3 separate regions of the Homo sapiens genome follow, and all the other regions are linked to region 3. The links come from fine-mapping of genetic effects on gene expression. A gene starts in region 3. Each other region holds a variant in brackets. All regions are shown on one strand. Distances are between the middles of the regions.

Region 1 (7,474 bases), 24 kb before region 3:
CAGGAGAACGGCGTGAACCCGGGAGGCGGAGGTTGTAGTGAGCTGAGATGGCACCACCGCACTCCAGCCTGGGCGACAAAGCGTGACTCTGTCTCAAAAAAAAAAAAAAAAAAAAAAAATTATGTAAGAGTCTAAACTAAAAACATGAGAATTCTTGAGACGTGTATATTAAAGATATACACCTAAAAAGAAATACACCCCTCATTCATAATGAGCACACATTCATTATGAAGAATTATACAGAACAAACAAAAACCAAACTGTTAATGAATTCAATATACAAGGATTTACTGTTCCTGATTTTGAAAAATTCAGAAAATAGGTTTTCACGCAGGAGTGGATCTCTAAACAATGTCTTAATTCTGGCCACACATCAGAACCACCTGTAGAGCTTAAAACAAAGGATGCTTAGGCTATCATTTCAGGTTTATGGTTAAGCTCCTGAGGAATAGGCGGCGAACACCTGAATTTTAAATTTACTTTTAAAATATTATTCAATGTATGTATTGTATATACTCTTTAAAAATAATCTATTTTTAAAAATAGTTTAAAATTTATAGAAAATGTAGACAATAAATAGTACAGAGTTCCTGTATACTACCCCATACCCAGTTTCCCCTATTATTAACATTGTACATTAGTTACATGCTATATTTATTACAATTAATAACCCAATATCCATACATTATCATTAACTAAGGCTCATACTTTATTCAGATTTCCTTATTTTTACCTAATACCCTTTTTCTGTTTAAGAATCCCATCCATACCACATCACCTTTAACTGTTATGTCCCCATAGGCCCCTTTTGGGCTGGGTTAGTTTCTCAGACTTTGCTGGATTTTAACAATCTTGGCTGTTTTGAGAAGTTCTGGTCAGGTATATTGCAGGAGGCCTTTCTACTGGAATTTGTCTGATGTTCTTTTCATTATTACTGGGGTAATGGGTTTTGGGGAGGCAGACCACAGAGGTAAAGTGCCATTCTCATTGCACTCTACCAAGGGCACCTACTGTCAACATGACATCACCACTGATGTTGGTTGAGGTAGTGTTTGTCAGGTTTCTCCACTGCAAAACTACTCTCCCCCCACCCTTTTCTATACATACTCTTTGGAAGTAAGTCATTATGAGCAGAGCACTTAAGAAGTGGAAAGGTTTGTTTGTTTCCTTTCCTTGAAGGTGGAGTATCTACATAAATTATTTGAAAATCTTCCAAATGGGAGATTTATCTATTTTCCCCCACTTATTTATTCACAACATTTATATATATCAATATAGACTCATGGATATTTACTTTATACTTTCAGATATAATATGTACTCTTTTAAAATATAATTTTATTTATTTTTGAATAGGCAATTATTCAAAGTTCAAAAGGCAAAAAAGAGTAGACGGCACACCCATGCCCTAGCTGCCTCATTAACCGTCCTGTAGTCAACAGTGTTGCCAGTTTTCTCAGAATCCTTCTGAAAATATTTTACATACCAAATACACATGAATGTATCTTTCCTTCATTTTACACAAATGGCAGCACACTATAAACACTGTTCTGCAGCTTGCTCTTTTTTTCACTTAGCAATATAGAGATCATTCCATTAACAAAGTTATTTTTTTTTTTAAAAACAGATGTATAGTTTTCTTTCACCAGTCCCATCTAAGTATATAATCTTAACCAAGTTACTTAACCTCAGTTTTTCCATCTGTAAAATAGTGCCTACTTGCCTACTTCATAAAATTATCATGAGAATACGTTAATATATATATACAAAGAACTCAGTGTCCTTTTCAATTTTTTTCATCAATGTTTTATAGTTTTCATTGTAGAGATCTTTCACTTCTTTGGTTAAGCTTATTCCTAGGTATTTTATTTTATTTATAGCTATTGTAAATGGGATAATTTTCTTGGTTTCTATTCCAGATTGTTCACTGTTGGCATATAGAAATGCTACTGATTTCTGTATGTTGATTTTGTATCCTACATCTTTACTTAATTCATTTATCAGTTCTAATGGTTTTTTGGCAGAGTCTTTAGGTTTTTCTAAATAGAAGATCATATCGTCTGCAAAAAAGGATAATCTGACATCTTCCTTTCCAATTTGGATACCATCTATTTCTTTCTCTTGTCTAATTGCTCTACTTAAGACTTCCAGTATTATGTTGAACAAAAGTTGTGAAAGTGGGCATCCTTGTCTTGTTTCAGATCTTAGAGGAAAGGCTTTCAGTTTTTTCCCATTCAGTATACCAGCTGCATGTCTGTCATATATGGCCCTTACTGTCTTGAGGTATGTTCCTTCTATACCTAGTTTGTTGACAGTTTTTATCACGAAGTTTTCATTGTGTTGAATTTTACTGAATGTTTTTTTGGCATCTATTGAGATGACCATATGGGTTTTGGTCTTCACTCTGTTGACGTGACATATTATGTTTAATGATTTGCGTATGCTGAACCATCCTCATATTCTAGAAGAAAACAATGGGGAAACACTCCAGGACATTAGCCTGGGCAAAGACTCCTTGAGTAAGACCTGAAAAGCACAGGTAGCCAAAATAAAAATGGACAAAGGGGGTCACATCAAGCTAAAAAGTCGGGCACAGTGACTCACACTGATAATCCTAGCACTCTGGGAGGCCAAGGTAGTGGACTGCCTGAGCTCAGGAGTTCGAGACTAGCCTGGTCAACATGGTGAAACCCCACCTCTACTAAAATACACACACACACACACACACACACACACACACACACACACACACACACAAGCTTCTGCAAGGAAATAATTAACAAGTGAAGTGACAACCTACAGAATGGGAGAAAATATTTGCAAACTATTCAACTGACAAGGGGTTAATAACCAGAATATATAAGGAGCTCAAATGACTCAACAACAACAAAAAAAGAAAATCCAATTAAAAAATAAGCAAAAGATCTAAATAATACATTTCTCAAAAGAAGACATACAAATGCCCGATTGGTATATGAAAAGATACTCAACATCACTAATCATCAGAGAAATGCAAATCAAAACCACAATGAGATATCATCTCATCTCAAAATGGCTTTTATCAAAAAGACAAAAAATTAAAGATGTTGGTGAGGATGCAAAGAAAGGGGAATGCTTATACACTATTGGTGGGAATGTAAATCAGTACAGTCACTATGAAAAACAGCACGGAGGTTGCCAAAAATAAAACCACCACAGGATCCAGCAATCTCGCTACAGGGTATCTACCCGAAAGAAACCAAGATATCAAAAAGATATCCGCGATCCCATGGTTACTGCAGCAAAATTCACAATAGCCACAACAGGGAATCAACCTAAGTGTCCATCAATGGATAAATGGATACAGAAAATGTGATACACATACATGGTGGAATATTATTCAGCCATAAAAAGAATGAAATCCTATAATTTGCAACAACATGGACAGAAGTAGAGAATAACATTTCAGTTGGTGAAATAAGCCAGGCACAGAAAGACAAGTATTGCATGTTCTCACTTGTATGTGAAAAATTTAAAAAAAAAATGACCTCATGGAGATAGAGAGTAGAATGATGACTACCAGAGGCTCTGAAGGGTAGTGGGTGGGGGGAATAAAAGGGTTGGTTAATGATTACAAAACTACAGTTAGATAGAAAAAATAAGATCCAGTGTTTGGTAGCATGATAGGTAGACTACAGTTAACAACAATTTATTGTATATTTCAAAATAACTAGAAGAGTAGAATTGGACTGTTCCTAACACAAAGAAATGATAAATATTTAAGGTGATGGATATCCCAATTACCCTCATTTGATCATTATGCATTGTATGCTTGTATCAAAATATCACATGTACCTCATAAATATGTACAACTATTATTTATCCAGAAAAATAGAAATAAAAGAGATTAGAACTCGTCATAAGCTAAATACACCTTAGCTATTCCAATCTCTTGTGAGTATGAGCAATACCCAATGAGTAATCCTATGTACATATCTTTTCCCACTTTTTGAGTCTGAATATGAGATAACTTTCTAGGAGATTTGCTGGCTCAAAGAAAACGCATATTTGAAATTTGTAGATACTGCCAAATTGCTCTTTATGGCGGTCAAACCAATTTATACTTCTGCAAGTAATATATTGAGTATGTACTTGTTTTGCCACGTTTTTATAGTGTATTATCAAACTTGTTGACTTTAGATGAAAAATGGTATTTTTGTAGTTTTAATTTGCATTTCTTTTTTTATTACAAGAAGTTGAACATTTTTCACATGCTTAAGTGAATCTGTATTTTCTTTTCTGTAAATTAGGAATTCATATTTTTGCTTATTTTTAATGGATTGATCATCTTTAAAACTCCAAATCCAATTACTCCTCAGAATGAT[C/T]TTCATTATGTGGAGACCTTTAATAAGTCCTGAACAACATATCAAAAAACCATAAACAAAAATACTTTATATTCCAAAGTATATATGTAGAATTTCTCAAAATGATTTGACAGCAGTGAAACCTAAGAGAGCTTTTAAGATAATAGCTTCTTGTTCTAAATCAGACTCCAGGAGAACAAAGAACAAAGGAGAAGAGCCTTTTTTTTTTCTTTCAGTTGTATAATTTGAAAAGGAGAAAATATTTTGGCAAACTAATTAAAACCAATTCTGGATTACATTTTTTTTTTTTGAGTGGGGGTCTCCCTCTGTTGCCCACAATGTAGTGGCTTGATCACTGCTCACTGCAACCTCAAACTCCTGGGCTCAAGCAATCCTTTAGCCTCAGCCTCCCAAAGTGCTGAGATTATAGGCACGAGTCACCTTTCCTGGCCCTTAATTACATTTGTGACTCTGCTATGCTCACAGAGTCAAAAGGGGCGGGGGCAGAAACCTGTACTAATGCTGTTGTCTCTATATTCTTCAAAATACAATTCTTGCCCAGTAAAATGGTGTATATATATCCCTTCTAAACATTCTATTCTCCTGAGAGGGAAGAAGTTCAGAAAAGCAGCAGAGGTGATGACATGTTTAAGTAATTGTCAGGAATTGTCACTGGCTATTATTTAGTTTATTCCTCTAGGGCAATGATCCTCAGCTGAGATGATTTTGCCCACAGAAGCTATATGACAATGTCCTGAGACATCTTTGGTTTTCACAACTTGAGCTAGTGGCATTCAGTGGGTAGAGCACTGTAGAACACAGAGGGCAGCCCCCACAAGAATTATCCCACCCAAAATGTCAATAGTGCTGAAGCTGAGAAATCCTGCTTTAGGGAATAAAAGAGTCAAGAGAATAAAGAGGCTAGGAAATGTGGAAGAAGTTGGCAACCTTTTGAAAACCAGACAAGTCCATAATTCCTTACCTGGCCTACCTCATCCTTGATTAAAAGAAAGAGGAAATTAAAGAAATAACTAATGATACAGCATGGTAGAAGCAAAATGGCCCTTTAATTTGGCCTCTTTCCAACTGTTCCCCCATCCCCCGAGCTTTTCTGGATTTGCTTACTACAAACTGTGCCGATGACCCCTCTTGACTGTGCAAAATGAAGTATTTTCCCAGTCCATATGGGAATGCAACAGAATATCAGTTATTAAATTTCCACCCTCATGCACTCTGCTCACTTCATTCTTTGCTTTTGTATTAAAGATGACTTCGATAATTTTAAAAAATAATCTTTCTATAACCATTTTAGACGTTATTTTTTACAGCATTACTTAACATTTTTAAGTAAAAGGTTCCAATAGTTGCAAACAAAATTATTTTAAGCAACACTTATTTTGAAAGTAATTTAAGGTGAACCGTTTCAAGTTCATGTCGTTAAAATGCTGTCAGTAAAATGTCAGGCAAGGTAGGAAGCTTCCAAGTTATTTCACTTGGTCAAACATAATTTTTGCACTTTAACAATGGTTTCTGAATTTAACATTATCTGAATGAATAATTTATCACTATGAACTTTTAATTTTTTTTTTTAGACACAGTCTCACCATATTGCCCAGGCTGGTCTCCATCTCCTGAACTCAAGCAATCATTCTGCCTCAAGCCTCCCCAAGTGCTGATGATAGAGACAGAAGGCAGAGAAATACTAGGCAGACAGGGGTGGGTCCTGGCGAAACCCCACCTTCAAGATGAAAAGCCTGAAACCCATTGCCCAAAGTGAGAACTTCTATCTCTGTTTGCCTGCTCTCTCCTGATTGGTTCTTTCTAAATGTCTTTTTACCAATCGAATGTTGCCTTTTCCAAAACTACCTACGGCCGGCCCCACGGCCCAACCCCTGTCCTGTGCCTATAAAGACCCCAGACTCAGCCAGTAGAGAGAGAGAAGCAGCTTGACTGGAGAGAGGTGACTTGACATTGGAGGGACAGCTGGACTTCAGAGGATGGCCTGACTATCGGGAAGAGCCGCTGGACCTCAGGAGAAGATTACCTGCCCGTCCCGTCCCCTCTCCCACATCCCACTCTGCTGAGAGCCATTTCCCATCACTTACCACCTTCACCATCCTTCAAGTGTCTGGGGGATCTCATTGTTCTTAGATGCCAGACAAGCACTGGAGACCCAACAAGTGCCAGTACCCCAAAAAAGGCTGTTGCATAGGCCCTTTCCCCTTGCTGGTGGAGGGCAGCCACCCCACACGATGAGGCAAGGCGCCCACTGAGCTGATAACACGCTGCTGTCCATGGATGGCAGACCTAAGAGAGTATTATATCTTCTGGGGCCTCTGGGGGGTTTCAGGCACCACAACCTAAGTGCCGCTGTGGGGCCCTTAGGTTGAAGGGCCCCACAGGTATGAAGTCTGCTCCTGCCATCACTCAAGGCAGCTAGCCAGATCCTGCACTCGTTTGCTCACATGTTCCCTCCCAAAAGAGGTTGAGTGTGGCGGACTGAGTAAACAGGGTACCCCGTCCCAAGTCCGATGAAGAGGTCAAGAAAAATCCTACATCACTGAGATTACAGGTATGAGCTGCCGTGCCCAGCCAGTATGTACTTTTTTAAAAAGAAGAATGAAGGTTTTATTCTAAATGCAATGGGAAACGATCGAAGTTTAACATACATTTACTTTTAAAATGTACTTGATATATAATAAATGCACTAATCTTAATTAGAAGCTTGATAGCTTCATAAACATACACACAACCCACATAACCACCACTCAGGTCAAGATACAGAATATTATCAGCATCACAAGTTTCTTCAAATGCATTTGAGACATTGAATACCAACGTCATTTTAAAAATCAGCATCACAAGTTTCTTCAAATGCATTTGTGACACTGAATACCAACGTCATTTTAAAATTTGATGCCAAATAAATCTTCACAAGTCTTTTTAAACATAAACTCGATCATAGTAAACAAGCTCCATGAGGAAAAGAATATTCTCTTTTCATGTTCCTCCTGAATCCCCAAGCACTTTGTACTTAACAGGTACTTACTAAAAAAAAAAAAAAAAAAAAGAAGTGTTGACTATTGAGCAACTAACTTAGCACTAATAAATTACACAGAAACAAATCTAATA
Region 2 (7,474 bases), 33 kb before region 3:
AAAAATGTAACACCTTATCCACTTGCTCTGTCCTTCTGCTATTTCCTAATCTAGTAATACTCAACTGGGCATAGGTGGCGTAACAGCATCATTTGTGGGGCTCTTGACATACCTCTATTCTACTGTCCTCATTCCTAGGTAAGTTCTCTGTGCAGTTCAGTGTATAAGATGCACTAACTTTTTCCTACTAATCTTTTCCAGGCTCTTCTGTAGGTTTATACCAACCCCTCATTTTCAGTCCTTTATGCCGCAGCACTCTTTTTATCCTTTAAAAATCTCACACTAGGGCTAAGCAGTAAGAGAAGATGGAATTTTTGTGAAAGGATTTCAAAAGCTTTTACTCTGGTGTCTTAACTTAGCAAAATATTATGATCACAGTACCAAGACAAGGCCTTGATTTTGCCATTAATTTACAGAAGATCAGAGAAGTTACAGAAAAAACTAAATAATAAGATTACAACCTACAGATGGAAGTCATTTCAAATACTATGAAATGTACAAGGGAGTTATTTCTTTTTTCCTGGATCTACTGCCTTTGCCCTTGAGAGGTACACTGTATTAGGAAAAAAAATCACTGATTTATTAATAATGAGATCTGGGTTTAATTCCACTATCTCTTACTAATTTGCTCTCTGACTTCACACAAGTCACTTAGCTGCTCTGTGTCTCAACTGTCTCATCTGTATACAGATCTGCAGATAGCAGTGCCTCATGCCTGCGATCCCAGAACTTTGGGAGGCCGAGGCGGGCAGATCACGAGGTCAGGAATTCAAGACCAGCCTGTCCAACATGGTGAAACCTCATCTCTACTAAACATACAAAAATCAGCTGGGTGTAGTGGCACGCATCTGTAATCCCCGCTACTTGGGAGGCTGAGGCAGGAGAATTGCTTGAACCCAGGAGGCGGAGGTTGCAGTGAGCAGAGACCGTGCCACTGCACTCCAGCCTGGGCGACAGAGCAAGACTCCATCTCAAAAAAACAAAAATTAAAAAAAAAATTAAAAAAAAAAAAGATTTAAGTATGGAGACCAGGAGCCAGGATACTGACTAGAAGGCTAAAGCAGTGGTACAAGCCATAATACCATCCCAAGGTGTACAAAATGCAATTCATTACTACCGGTAAGTCCTGTCTCCATTACTACATTTTATGTTTCTTAAGTGTAGGAACATTACCATTCTTTAGCATATAAATTATGTTCTAGAGTGATGTCATACACCCTGTAGAAACACAGAGAATAACTACTACTAAAATGTCTATTACCTTAGAATACGTACCTCTTCACTGGGAAGGGCTACATATTCAGGCTGTAGGGGTCTTGGAACTGAGAGGCCGGGTCCTGGTAAAGATACATTTGACAGACGTCTCTTTCTTACTCCACTACAGTTATTTGGAATCTTGAAGGCACATCGTTTATGGTAATTTAATCCACAGCCTAAACATATTTTACAAGGTAAAATATAAGATTTAAAAAAAAATTTACTATTTAAGTGTGATACATAAAAACCACTGCTTCTTTTATTTAACATATTTTCTGTTAGCCATACCTATCCTAATTAAGAACCCAGACAGCAGGCTAAGTGGAAGCTAATGAATTCAAGAAGAAAAGGAAATGTGTAAAAAGGATAAGTCAGCTAGGGCAGTGGTTCTTGAAGTGTGGTCCCTAAGGCAACCACCTGGAAATTTGTTAGAAATGTAAATTACAAGGCTCCACCCCAGATCTACTGAATTAGAAACTACGGGGATGAGGCCCAGCAAAGTGTGTTTTACGATGCACAATACAGTTTGAGAACCACTGCCTTAAAGCACTAGTTAGCAAACTATGGCCTCTGTACCAAATTCCTCCTGTGACATGAAAATTTTATGAAACTCAAATTTCAATGTCCCTAAATAAAGTTTTATTGGAACACAACCATATCTATTCGTTTACATATTGTCTATGATTGGTTTCATACTGTAATAGCAGAGTTAAATCATGACAGAGACCATATGGCCAACAAAGTCTAAAACATTTACTCTCTGTCCCTTTACAGAAAAAGTTGATTGACCCTCCACCTTAGAAGACTGTTTCTTCATCAGAAATGTGCACCTGTGTCCTACTCCTAGCAATTCTAATTCAGAACAAATTTGACAATTTAGTTGTATGTAAGAGACAACTTTTTTTTTTTGAGACAGAGTTTCGCTCTTTCACCCAGGCTGGAGTGCAATGGTGCAATCTCGGCTCCCTGCAACCTCCGTCACCCAGGCAGGTTCAAGCGATTCTCCTGCCCCAGCCTCCCGAGTAGCTGGGATTACAGGCATCCGCCACCACGCCCGGCTAAGTTTTTGTATCTTTAGTAGAGACAGGGTTTCGCCATGTTGGCCAGGCTGGTCTCAAACTCCTGACCTCAGGTGATCCACCAGCCTCGGCATCCCAAAGTGCTAGGATTACAGGTGTGAGCCACCGTGCCTGGCCAAGAAAACTTTTAAAAACAAAAAACAACATGAATATTTATGGAGCCATTATTTTGTACTAAATATTTAACCCTATTACCTGATTTAACCGTTTACTCTTTATGAAACCAGTGGGGCAGAATGTATTTTACGAGAAATTAATCTTAAGAGGTTTAGTAATTTGCCCAAGAATATGAAGTAGGTGGCAGAGATAAAATGAGAGTCCTGATCTCTCCAATTCTAAATCCTCGTTACCACCCTAGTCAACAGCTCGTCATCTTGCTTTTTCACTGATAATAAAAAATGCAAATGTGGAATCTTATTTCAAATGACCACAAAAATTTTAGAACACACACCTTCACATTTCAGTCCTTGACGTACCAATCCCCAGAGCATCTCACCACAGTAATCACAGAAAGTAGGAGCTTTGTAAGAATGTACATAGAGAGTATGTGGACGAATCTGGAAGTCTTCTACTGTGGCTAAAGCTTTAAAAAAGAAAAGTATTACAATACACGTTGTATTTGTACTGCGATGAGATTAAGAATGCTCACACATTCACTTATGTCAAAGTACACAGAATCATTTTTTCTCTGAAAGTTGCACTGGACCATAAAAGTAAATTATTTAATATTGTGATTTCAAACTCTAGTTTAGCAAGTCCATTTACTTCTCATCATTTGAGCTCCAGAAGTAGGTCATAGGTTAGTTATTTGGAACTCCAACAGCATTTTCTCATAATGACAAGATTACAAACAGACATTAGGTTACTTTAACCAATTAAAAACTGCTTAACTTACACAGTGGGAAATAGAACACTAAAGTAAAAACTACTATGGAACTTAACTTCAATTTATGGAAACGTTTCTGTGGAAAAAGATACTGAGTCCTAATTTAGGATCCCAGGATATACTTGTCTGTTTGTTCTCCACAGTCCTAGTGGATATGAGAAAGAAACTCCTTTCCCCTTAGTGAACGTCGGGACAGTAGACCCAAGGAACTTCCTCTCACCTCAACCTGCAAGTAGTCTGATGGAGTCCAGAGTAGAGAAGGAAGAGATGTGAGCAGGACTTCCAGGTGAGACAGGGAGTGAAACTCCTCAGGAATGAAGAGGAGGGCAAGGATTGGGAAATATAGAGATGGTTTGGGGTTGTTGTATAGAAGATGAATGATCAGTGTAGCAGGGAGTGAGATGAATGAGAGAATCAGAAATATAAGATGAGAGGAGTGGGGACTAATAAGGACAGAGAGGATCTCAAGAAAAGGCTCAAAGGTGAATTTGAGAAAAGGGAACTTGGTAGCAGGGCTCTGACCCATGGCTGGCCAGCTTGCTTCCTTTCTTCCATCAGTTCTCCTACTTGCCAAACAAAAAGTACTGCAGACCTACTATGTGCATTATTATGGCATTCTTTCTTCCTTTTCACTCCTTATTATCTTGCCCACATTGCTGCAGGATGAGATGGCAAATAGTGGGAATTAAAAAACAACGTATGGCAAGAATGCGTGAGGTGGAAAAAGTGAAAGGTAGAAAAAAGCCCAGTGGGACAAAAAGGGAAAGAGCATTTTTAATTTTAAAGCCACAGAAATAACCAGCATTGTAATTTCCTCTTCCATATCTTCATTACTTCTTTTTTTCCTGATTCTCTTTTCTAAACCCCAATTTTCTTCTTTTATGCTCTTTACAGAAATGGGGGTGGGGGAAGGGGAAAAAACAGAATTTCAGTGTAACTGTTTTATTTCTTTGACTCAGAGAAGAGTATATTTCTTTCAGACCAAATAATTTCCTAAGCTTAGTAACATTCAAGTAATTCAGTTTATTTTCCTATCCTGATTTTTTCCTTTTTTTTTTTTTGAGACAGAGTCTCACTCTGTTGCCCAGGCTGGAGTGCAGTGGTGCGATCTCGGCTCACTGCAAGCTCCACCTCCTAGGTTCACGCCATTCTCCTGCCTGAGCCTCCCCAGTAGCTGGGACTAGGCGCCCACCACCACGCCTGGCCAAATTTTTTTTGTATTTTTAGTACAGACGGGGTTTCATCTTGTTAGCCAGGATGGTCTTGATCTCCTGACCTCGTGATCCGCCCGCCTCGGCCTCCCAAAGTGCTGGGATTACAGGCGTGAGCCACCGCG[C/T]CAGGCCTTTCTTTTGCTTTTTTAAAGAGACGAGTCTCGCTCTGTTGTCCAGGCGGAAGTGCAGTAGTGTGATCATGGCCCACTGCAGCCTCAACCTCCCAGGATCAGGCAATCCTCCCACCTTATCCTCCCAAGTAGCTAAGACTACAGTTGCATGTGACCATGCCTGGCTAATTTTTTTTTTTTAAATTTTTAGTAGAGACGAGGTATGCTGCTCAGGCTGGTCTCAAACTCCTGAGATAAGCAATCCTCCCGCCTCAGCTTCCCAAAGTGCTGGGCTTACAGGTGTGAGCCACCGTTGCCAGGTATTTTTCTTTCTTAATGGTGATATAACATGCCTGAAAGGAAAAATCATATGGTGACCATTATTAGAGATGAAAGAAATTAAGTAACAATAATACAAAGACTAAATATAATCGAATTGCAGCATTTAGTACAGAAAATTAGGCTCTTTGAGGGGAAAAGGCAATCACTCTAAAAAGCCACTTACTTACCTGAAAGAACCACTTCCACTAGGTCTCCTTCATGTATTTCATCTGCTGAGGTAATCAGCTGCAAAATGTTTTCTGAGTTCATGTCATGGCGAAAGAGAAGAATTTTGTCATACATGCCAAAGAATCCACACTCTGGAAACTGAGGGATAATAGTCCTATATCAGTATGACCACAGTTTTCTATTTTTATAAGTAAACGTTTCAATTTTATCAAAGAATTTAAAACATAGTGTTTTTAACCTAACACTATTTGCTAACAATTCTATTGATACCTAAAAGGTGATCCACGTACTCAAGCATCCTGGTTAATTTTAAAGTTCAAGAAAAATAGAAAAGTAAACTTACAAATAAATAATCATTGATGATTTTAAAATACATGTCTCTTACAAATACAGGATTTCTATATTCAGTTACTGATGGAGAATATAATCTTAAACTTACTGCTACTCCACTCTTAGCCTGAAAGATAAGCAGTCGTTCCAGCGCCTTAGGACATGCTGCTCTAAATATTTCAAAATTCTTCAGTAGATCTCAGAATTATAAATGCTCACTGACTTATTTGGGCTCCTCATAGAATATCCTTTAATAAATGACACCATGTCACCTGCCTGCATCAAATGGTCTAATATGAATCAGTTTCACTAAACTAAATGCATTTGTCACAGAGACGCTGCTGCTGATATCGTTTACCTATTTCATACTGTAGCCCTTCTTTGTGAAGACCCACCCACAAAATAACTTTATCTAGTTGATTTTATAACATGAACAATTTGCTCACGTAAGTTAACATGTTTTCCTGTTTGCTTTGCCAAATGGAAAAAGCACAGCCAAATTTGTAGCCCAATTTTACCATCAGTCTTGGATCTTATGGGATGTGTTTTAGGTGCAAACACTAACCTAGTTTCATCTCATTTTCTGACCTTAATTTTCTCATTAGAAAAGTCCTGTATATATTTCTAAAGAGTTCTCAAAACCTTTTTTTGAGATAGGGTCTTGTTCTGTTGCCTAGGATGAGTACAGTGGTGTGATCACAGTTCAACACTGCAGCCTCAAACTCCCAGGCTCGTGATCCTCCCACCTCAGCCTCCCCAGTAGCTGGGACCACAGGTGCATGTCACCACTCCCAGCTAATTTTTTATGTTCTGTAGAGACAGGGGTCTCGCTGTGTGGCCCAGGCTGGTGTTGAACTTCTAGACTCAAGTGATTCCCCCACGTCAGCCTCCCAAAGTGCTGGGATTAGAGGCATGAGCCACCACAACTGGCCTCTCAAATCTTTTTTTAAAGTTAAATTAAAAAAAAATTAAAAACAATGATTAATTAGAAAGTTACAAGTTTATAGTTTTTGTAACCAGGGTAAATAATGGGAAAGTACAGAAATATTTAGAATTTTTGTAATACTAATTCTCCTTTTGAGTCACCAACAGTATTTGTAAAACCTCATAGTATGTTTAACATATATCTAAGAGTGTAAGAATTCTCAATTAAAAAGATACAAGTAAAAATACAGAACCAAAAAATTAAATCTTCATTTAAATTTTAAAATTAAAATTTTACTAAATTTTATGAAATTATTCAGTTGGAGAATAAAATATCTTCATAACCTAGTTACAAAAATTTGTAAGGACAAAGGACTCCACATTCCATCCTCATTAAAACTCTAAGGCCAGATGCACTGGCTCATGCCTGTAATCCCAGCACTTTGGAAGGCCAAGGCAGGCAGATCATTTGAGGTCAGGAGTTTGAGACCAGCCTGGACAACATGGTGAAACCCTGTCTCTGATAAAAATACAAAAATTAGCCAGGTGTGGTGGTGCATGCCTGTAGTCCCAGCTACTTGGGAGGCTGAGGCATAAGAATCACTTGAATCTGGGAGACAGAGGTTGCTGTGAGCCAAGATTGCACAACTGCACTCCAGTCTGGGTGACTGACAGAATGAGGCTCCGTCACAAACAAACAAACAAACTCACTCACTCTACTATTTGTATAAATAAAACTGATTTCAAAAAGGCATACTTCTTGCATGTCCGGTAAGTGCAAGATACTGGCCCCACAGTTTGTAAAGACAGAATAGTCCTTATCTTCCAGGAACTTACAATCTAGTAGGAAGACAGAAATAAACACAAATATATATAGTATAAGGCAAATAACAAAATTAAAATAAAAAATTATAGAAGGAGGAGGAATAAAAAATGTTAACTGGGACAGTGGAGTAGAGGGATTCAGTATGATACTTGAGCAGAACTAAAAAAGAGAAGCAGAGTTTCCATAGGTTGAAAGTGTAAGCATCATCAATGAGAAGTTACAAGGTAAATGGAAGACGGTAAGTGGAGCCTTGAGACTAAAGAATGAGATGGGGGAAAGCTGGGTAGAGAGAGGGCAGAAAAGCACAGGGAACCCCACTGGCACCATACTAACAAAGAAAC
Region 3 (7,474 bases):
GCATTTCTAATATGTTTATTTAGAACTTGTCAAATATTCTTTTGGGGAGCTAGCTGTCACATATTCCATTCAAATGAGCTTACATAATCTGTCATCATTGTTACTGGAATCAAAATATAGGATATTAATGGCATCTTGAACCCAGTCTGTCCTATTTTACAGACAAGGTGAAACAAAGGCCCTGGAGGTGAGAGGACTTACTTGAGGATTATCTCACGGTAATATCACAAGTTTATCTACTTCCTCTCCCTCTCCTTCCCCTTCCCCCATGCACACATTATCTCATTTTTAACACTCTAATTAGGAGAAGCTCTAACAGCAGTATTTCCACTTAACAAATACTTAATTAGTACTTATTATTTCCCAGACTGTTATGAGAGACACTGGAGTTATAGAGCAGTGACCGAAACAGACATGGCCACTGCTCTCTCTGAAATTCAAAGTGTGATGTGAGACACAGACATAACATTCATACAAACAGCTGGGTAATTATAAACTGCAAGAGGTGATATGGCAGAGTATACTAAGGGGACTCAATTCCAGCTGGAATCTCAGGAAAGGTACCTTTAAGGAAATATTTAAGCTGAGATCTCTGGATAAGCAAGAGTCAACGATGCAAAGAGACAGACAAAAGGATTCCAGGAAGGCAAAATGCATCTAGTTATTAAATTCTTCAAAAAGAAGTTCATTATTTAGTGCAGCATCATTCTTTTTGTACAATACTCAGCAAAGGCTAAAGTGAAGAGATAAAATGCTTTTCCTATTGGAATAACAATATTTATTATAACATGAATTCCTCCCAGTAAAGAGTTTTCCAGGTTCAACTTAAGTTTTGTGTACTAGAAATGCTAATGACGTGGAGGGTTGTGTCCACGCCTCTTGACATGTATTAATATTAGTATTCTTTTACCACGTAAAAGTATGTGGCCTTTTTCAATGCAATTCTGACCAGCGTCCTAAAGTCCATGTCCATGTTTTGACATAGGTTTGACTTTGCTTAGTAATTGTTCTTGCTTTTATATTGTATGTTGTATTTAAAAACTCAAGTGTCTACGTCGTTGGTTTTTAAAAAAATCATATCTTGTAGCAATCCCGACAATGATTTATATATTTTCAAAAATACCTATTACTTTAGATTAACATACTTTTCCTAAGAGCTTAGCATTTGCTAAATTGTTTCCTCTAAAATTCTGCTCATCTGGACCAGTGACAGTTGAATCTCAGTCCTTCCACTGTCAGAGAGTACTGAGAGAGCACACCATATCTGCTCTGCTCAGGAACTGAAAAGTTTATCCAGTAATAAGATTATGGACTGCCAGTCTGGCAATGCAATATGAATCCATGTTGAGCTTGACAGATGTTAGTCTCTGCACCAGTAGTAGCTAAGAAATCTGATTGGTTAGCAGCCAATGAGCAATTTCTCACATACTGCCACAATAAACTAACCACAGAAATGGAAAAATTTTTTTTCCTACATTAAAATGAAAATATCTCATAAGCACATTATCTCAAGTTTTTCCTGAGAGGGCTACTCAAAGAGATACATATATATATATAGCAAGTTCGATCTGAATTACATAATCAGCGAGACTCAAAGTACAATCATCACAGAAGATTGTGAATTATAAGCAGCATTATATCAAATTAAAACTTGTACTAGCAAAGAATTTCCTTATATATCAAGCTCTGTACAAGCAGTTTCTTTTAAAAACGAACAATTAACTCCACTGTAGTATTTTCAACTTTAGAGTCTTTTAAAAAAATGAGAACAAAATGTCCCTTAAGAAAACTGCACTTAAATGACCACCTATTCATATTTTTCTGTATGTGGTGTTTTCAATTCGTAATTTAAAAAAATGTAATATCAGAAAGTTTTATTTATGAAGTTCTGTGTGTGTGGCAGTGTTTAAATCCACGAACAGAAAGAAATTTCTATTTTAAAGTGGCTATCTGATGAAACTGAAAGCTTAAAATTTTCTCTAAAAGACTTACCATTATCTAGGATGCTTAAAAAATTAGTTTTAAGATACACATCAGTCAACATTCTTAATGTGAAACGCTATATACTAAATTACAGAACCTGAGTCACCCTGAAATGTGAAATGCTATATACTAAATTATAGAACCGAGGATGGAACCTGGCTCGTCAAGGAGTACTCCAAGCTCATGCACTCAGGCCCACCACAACTGTATTACTACCTACTGAAGAAAAACCTTCCACGGTTTCTGTGTGACACGTTTCAAATCCTACTTTTAGAAAATCTTCTAACTTCTTGGCTGAATGTCCATGCTTGATCTTAACTCGGAATCTAACAGGGAAGGAAGCAAGGGTTCGTTGACAAGGAAAAACTGGCCTAGATCTCAGTCGGGGGAACTTTATGGACGCCTTCTGCAGCAAAGCTAAGGAAAATGAAAATCGCTAAAAATGTAAGAACGACGACATTAAGTAGAAGGGTAAAAAAAAAGTTTCAGAGGAATAAAATAACATTTTCTAGGATACAAATTAAGGCATTTAAAAGTTCTTGTTCCATTTGTGGCTATGTCTCATAAAAGCTGTGTCGCACCAAGCAGCAGTTCAGGGTGTAACTTATCCTTCCTAATCAAAGATGACACCGATAGTCTTATTTCCTGTGGGGATGGGTGTGATTGAAGACACAGTTACGTCCATGCCATCAATCTGTGTGTGGAAAAGTCGGCAGGTCGCGCGCACACACTTGTCGCTTGAATCGTATGTGTGCCTGCAGACGGCAAGGCCTATGCCTCTGACTGCGTTCACCTGAAATAAAATACCCAACCGGCAATACAGTAGTATATGGTTATTTTCACTGCTCAAAGAAACAGTGGCACTCCTCAGTGTTTCAGCTTAAGGAAAACCTCCCAGGAGGGAGCAACTCGGAACAATGCTGCAACTAGCAAATCCAAACGCAGTCGGGATACTGGGGCGAGGGGCTTACATTCTCCAAGCACCATTTACTCACCCCTTTGAGACGACTACAACGCAAAGTGAGGAAATGAAACGAAAAAGCTGGTCCAAAATTCGGCACTGCGAGCGCCGCGGGTCTGGCTTCGGGAACTAGTTTGGGAGACCCGGGAACGGATCGCCTCCGATGGGCCGGGCGCGGTGGTCTCCAGCGGAGCGCGAACCCAAGTTGCCCTCCGCGCGGACGCCGGAACTTGGCCCCTCTGGCGGCTGCGGCGGCGCCCCCGCTCCCCCTCAGCCGCCCACCTCCCGCCGCGCGCTCCCCCAACTTCCCGCCCAGCGCGGCTGACACCGCCCAGCCCGGCGCGGGGTCCGAGTCCTGTCGCCGCCGCCGCCGCGTGCAGTTGGGGGGTTGGGGGTTTGGGGGATGGGGGAGGGGCCGCCGCCGCCTCAGCCCGACGGGCCGGGAGAACAAAGCGGCGGCGGCGGCGGCGCGAACTTTTTCGGTGTCTGTTCAGCGCTCCCCGAGGCGACTACTTACAGTGGCAGGCTCGGCCCGTCGTGAGAAACTGCGCCCGCCAGCGTCTGAGTACCGGACGAGGCGCCAGCGAGGCTTCACGCGCCTCGCAGGATCCCGCCCGCCTCCGGCGCCCCTTCCTCCCTCCCTCCCCGTCCCGTCCTGGGGCCGGAGGGCGGGGGGCCGGGGCGCGCGGGGGGCGGGGGCGCGCGGCCAGCGCGGGGCCTGCCGGGAGCTGTAGTTCCTCGGCCCGCGCCCGCCGGGAGGTGGCCGCGGCGGGAGGTCGGGGTTGTCTCTGCCCCGCGAAGGGGCGCCGGGAGCGCCGGGTACAGTCGGGCTGGCTCCGCACCCTCGAGTTCCGGGCGTCTTCGTGAGCGCGGGGGCACGGGGCAGGGGCGCCGCGGGAGTCGCGAGCGTGTCTATCAGTTACACGCGGTACTTGATCGCGCTGTTGCCGACGGTACTGTCTTTTCCTCTACTGCCGTGCACTCTTGAGGGAGGCGGTGGCGACAATGGGCCAGAGGTGATAGTTGGAACGGGGGACTTGTAAGGCGTCCAGAGCAGAGAGCTGCTTCCACCCTGAGATGTCACAGCCCTCCCGCATGCTCCTCCCTGCTGCCTGCCCCCGGGGTGGCCGCCGGCACCGCAGCTCGGCGCCCAAACCGGCACGTCCCAAGCCCGACGTTCCGGTGACTGCAGGGGTTTTCCCGGTGCTCGGTGTTTCCTCCCCGTCGGCCTTTAAACGCGAATGTGACCCTACCACCAAAGTGGAGTGCAGTCCAGAATCACCAAACCTGGGCTTCCAGGTGTCTGGAAACACAATGTTAACATTTGTTTTGCTCCAAAACAAAGTATGACCGTGTCGGGTGAGTGGGGCGGGAGTGGGAGTCAGCAGCATAAGGATCTAGAGGGAAAATACACTGTGCATAAATTTTCGATGTCTTATGTGAGAGAAAGGCCTGAGAAGCTGACAGGCATTGTCACAGAAGCCACATGATTCTCCTTATGTCAACATTTTATCCCAAAAGTACTTAAATATATTGAAACAATCAGAGGGACTACAATCAAGAGGGCAGTTTTCTTTCTTCTCTCTTTTTCTTTCTTTTCCCCTTTCTCTCTTTCTTCTTTCTCTCTAGAAAAGGTTTTACTCTGTCATCCAGGCTGAAGTGCAGTGACACGATCATAGCTCACTGCAGCCTGGAGCTGCTGGGCTCAAGTGATTATCCTGCGTCAGCCTCCCAAGCAGCTGGGACTACAGGCGTGTGCCACCACGCCCCACTAACTTTTAAGTTAGTTTTTGTAGAGACGAGGTCTCTTGCTGTGTTACCCAGGCTGGTCTCCTGACCTCAAGAGATCCGCCCGCCTCGGCCCTCCAAATCGTTGGGATTACAGGCGTGAGACACCGCGCCCAGCCAAGAGGGCAGTTTTCAAGAATAGAAAGAAAAATAAACATAAATTAGCCCCTACTTTTGATACAAAATCATCACTCTTAATGGATGTCCTCGGATTTAAAGTTAAGAAATGAAAATATTAAGATAATTTATATTAAACATAAGGCAGGTAAGATTGTGTAAAACCTTGATTACTTTATTTAAAAATCTATTTAAAAAAAGATTTCTGAAACATTCTCAGGAATTGGAAGTTGCTAAATGTCTTACATCCAGCAGTATCTAATTCAATCTTACTATATTTTTGTTATTAGAGTCCTATTCAGCTATTCTTTTACTTTAAAATTGAAAGTAGATTTACTCAAGTTTGCCTTCTTTTTAAAGGACTCTCTTGCTTAACTTTGCCCTTTTCTTCCTTTCACTTCCCAACAGACGTTTTAGTCCAGCCCCAAATTTTGCCTCTGAGCAAGATTCCCAGGACCTCATTGGAGCAGTTTACAGCCAGTCTTATCTCACTATTAACTTCCATTTTCTGCTGTAGTACTTAAAGTGACAGAAGTTACTCTTCCTAGAAGTAACTTTTCCAGACGATTCAAACTGCTGTTATACAGAGATTTAAGTATTTGTGTGCATGTGTGAAAACAGAGATATGTAATGTATATATTTCATTTTATTTCCACTGTTCTGCTTCTCTTTTTAAAAATAAAGCGGTCTCCTCCACTTTGGGTAAATCTTTCAGCACATTTGATCAAAGAACTATCTTTGTATCTAATTTTTTGCTTAACATGAACTACAGTTTCCTCAAGGTGTTCCATTCCTGAGCATTACAGAGATAAAGATTGAATTTAATAAATAAGTGTATTGCCATGTGAAATGTTTTAATCCTTGAGAGAAAATATAATCTGAATGCTCAAAATGGAAAGGATTTTTCTTCTTGCTGGTGTTTTATGAAAACGAGCTTACAATATTGCTCTTCTATGGCTGCAGTTGGAGAGCTTGTCCCGCATTATTGGGCTCCTTGTACTTAATGACACACAACATAGCCATTCAAATATGTTACCTAATGCAAGCAAAGAAAGTCAACACTCTTGTGACTTGAGATAACAGAGACATCTGATTTAGAAACCTAAATGCAGGGGGAAAAAATGATCTGCCCGCCGCAGTCTCCCAAAGTGCTGGGATTACAGGCATGAGCCACTGCGCATGGCCCTTATTTTTATTTATTCATCGTTTAGCACAGTGCTCAATAAATGTTGATTAAATCAGTGAATTTTTTCACTAGGGAAATTGATGACAATTTCCAGCTAGAGGAAATTGTCATCATTTTAAAACTGCAGCTGGTTTTAATTTATAGAATGTGGTCACTGGAAAATTATTTTGTGATTGTGTCTTTTTCCATGACCTTGAAACACAGCTGAAAAATTCAATAAAGCATTTGGGTATCAATATAGAGTTAGTAAAATAGTTATGGGAGAAAATGCTTTAGGATCTATTTCTTTATCAGCAGAGACATACGTGATGATATAGTTCTCAAAATGTCCTGTCTCAGTTTCCACTGCCGTTATCCTAGTCCATATCTCACATCTGGATTACCACAACAGACTTTAAGTTGGTGTCCTAGACTAGCTCAAACTGTTATATCCTTGGAACTGTCTTGTCTGATTTGCAGGCTATCAATAATTGTTCTGTGTTCTGATAGCCCTTGAGAGATAATTCTCATGTGGCTCATCACATTTTATTGTGGACTGAGTGTTTATCACATCCTCCTGGGATCGCTATCTGCCCTTCCCTTTTCTGAACTTGAAGAAGACCAGATCTTTTATTTATTTATTTATTTATTTTATTTATTAGTAGAGACAGGGTTTCACTATGTTGTCCAGGCTGGTCTCCAACTCCTGTCCTCAAGTGATTCACCAGCCTCAGTCTCCCAAAGTGCTGGGATTACAAGCGTGAGCCACTGTACCCGGCCGTTTTTTAAATTTATTCATCATTTAGCATAGTGCTCAATAAATGTTGATTAAATCAGAGAATTTTTTCAATATGTCTTGATGATAGTAGTTAGTCTAGTAGTCCTAAAGTACCACATGATAAACTCTGCAGTCATTCCTTATCACCTACCTTACCACGTCCAAATTCTTCTGCTTGGGTATAAAGGTTATTAATAATATCTATTGCTTATTGAACACCAGCTCTGGGCCAGGCACATTCATTCGTTTTTAATGTAACTTTCTGTATTCCATATAACTCCTCTCTTTCCTTTATTTGCACTTATATTTAGCTTTATATAATTTTACACTTGGTTATATTACTATGTTCATATATCTCCATATATATTTCCTATATTTCCAGTCTTAGTGCATAGTGCCACCATCTAGTCATTGAAGACAGAAACTACTTGGTCAGCCTAAACTCCTTTCCCTTGTTCTCCAAATCTAATTGGTGATCAAGTCCCATCAATTTCATACCATCATGTTTCTTGCATGGTATCTGTAAATATATGTCTGTATATATATTTACAACATAGTATATAATCAAAGAGAGGTGTGATAAGGATGGCTTGACTAAAAAGATTAGGAAAATCTGGTAACTAAAGGGAGTGGTTACTGCATATGTTTCACCTAGGATTTTATATGCAGTTCTTAAAAGTTT

Evidence for each region. PIP is the estimated chance that this variant, and not a neighbour inherited with it, causes the effect.
Region 1: its variant is the best candidate, but not a certain one, in a credible set for the expression of PRKD3 in whole blood (INTERVAL, PIP 0.89).
Region 2: its variant is the best candidate, but not a certain one, in a credible set for the expression of PRKD3 in spleen (GTEx, PIP 0.75).

The regions. Positions count from the first base shown.
Region 1 is chr2:37,296,805-37,304,278 of GRCh38, forward strand. The region is part of intron 2 of PRKD3 (protein kinase D3); the gene reads right to left. Among named protein-coding and RNA genes, the nearest start is that of PRKD3, 24 kb to the right of the region's middle. The variant C/T (reference allele first, on the strand shown) is at 4,364.
Region 2 is chr2:37,288,081-37,295,554 of GRCh38, forward strand. PRKD3 (protein kinase D3) reads right to left here. Exons shown (of 19, transcript NM_005813.6): 3 at 5,053-5,191; 4 at 2,788-2,919; 5 at 1,276-1,433. Among named protein-coding and RNA genes, the nearest start is that of PRKD3, 33 kb to the right of the region's middle. The variant C/T (reference allele first, on the strand shown) is at 4,559.
Region 3 is chr2:37,321,220-37,328,693 of GRCh38, forward strand. It overlaps PRKD3 (protein kinase D3), which reads right to left and starts at 3,614. Exons shown (of 19, transcript NM_005813.6): 1 at 3,462-3,614. It overlaps PRKD3-DT (PRKD3 divergent transcript), which reads left to right and starts at 3,862. Exons shown (of 2, transcript NR_183394.1): 1 at 3,862-4,303; 2 at 5,258-5,545. RefSeq lists an enhancer at 2,625-2,704 and a silencer at 3,345-3,974.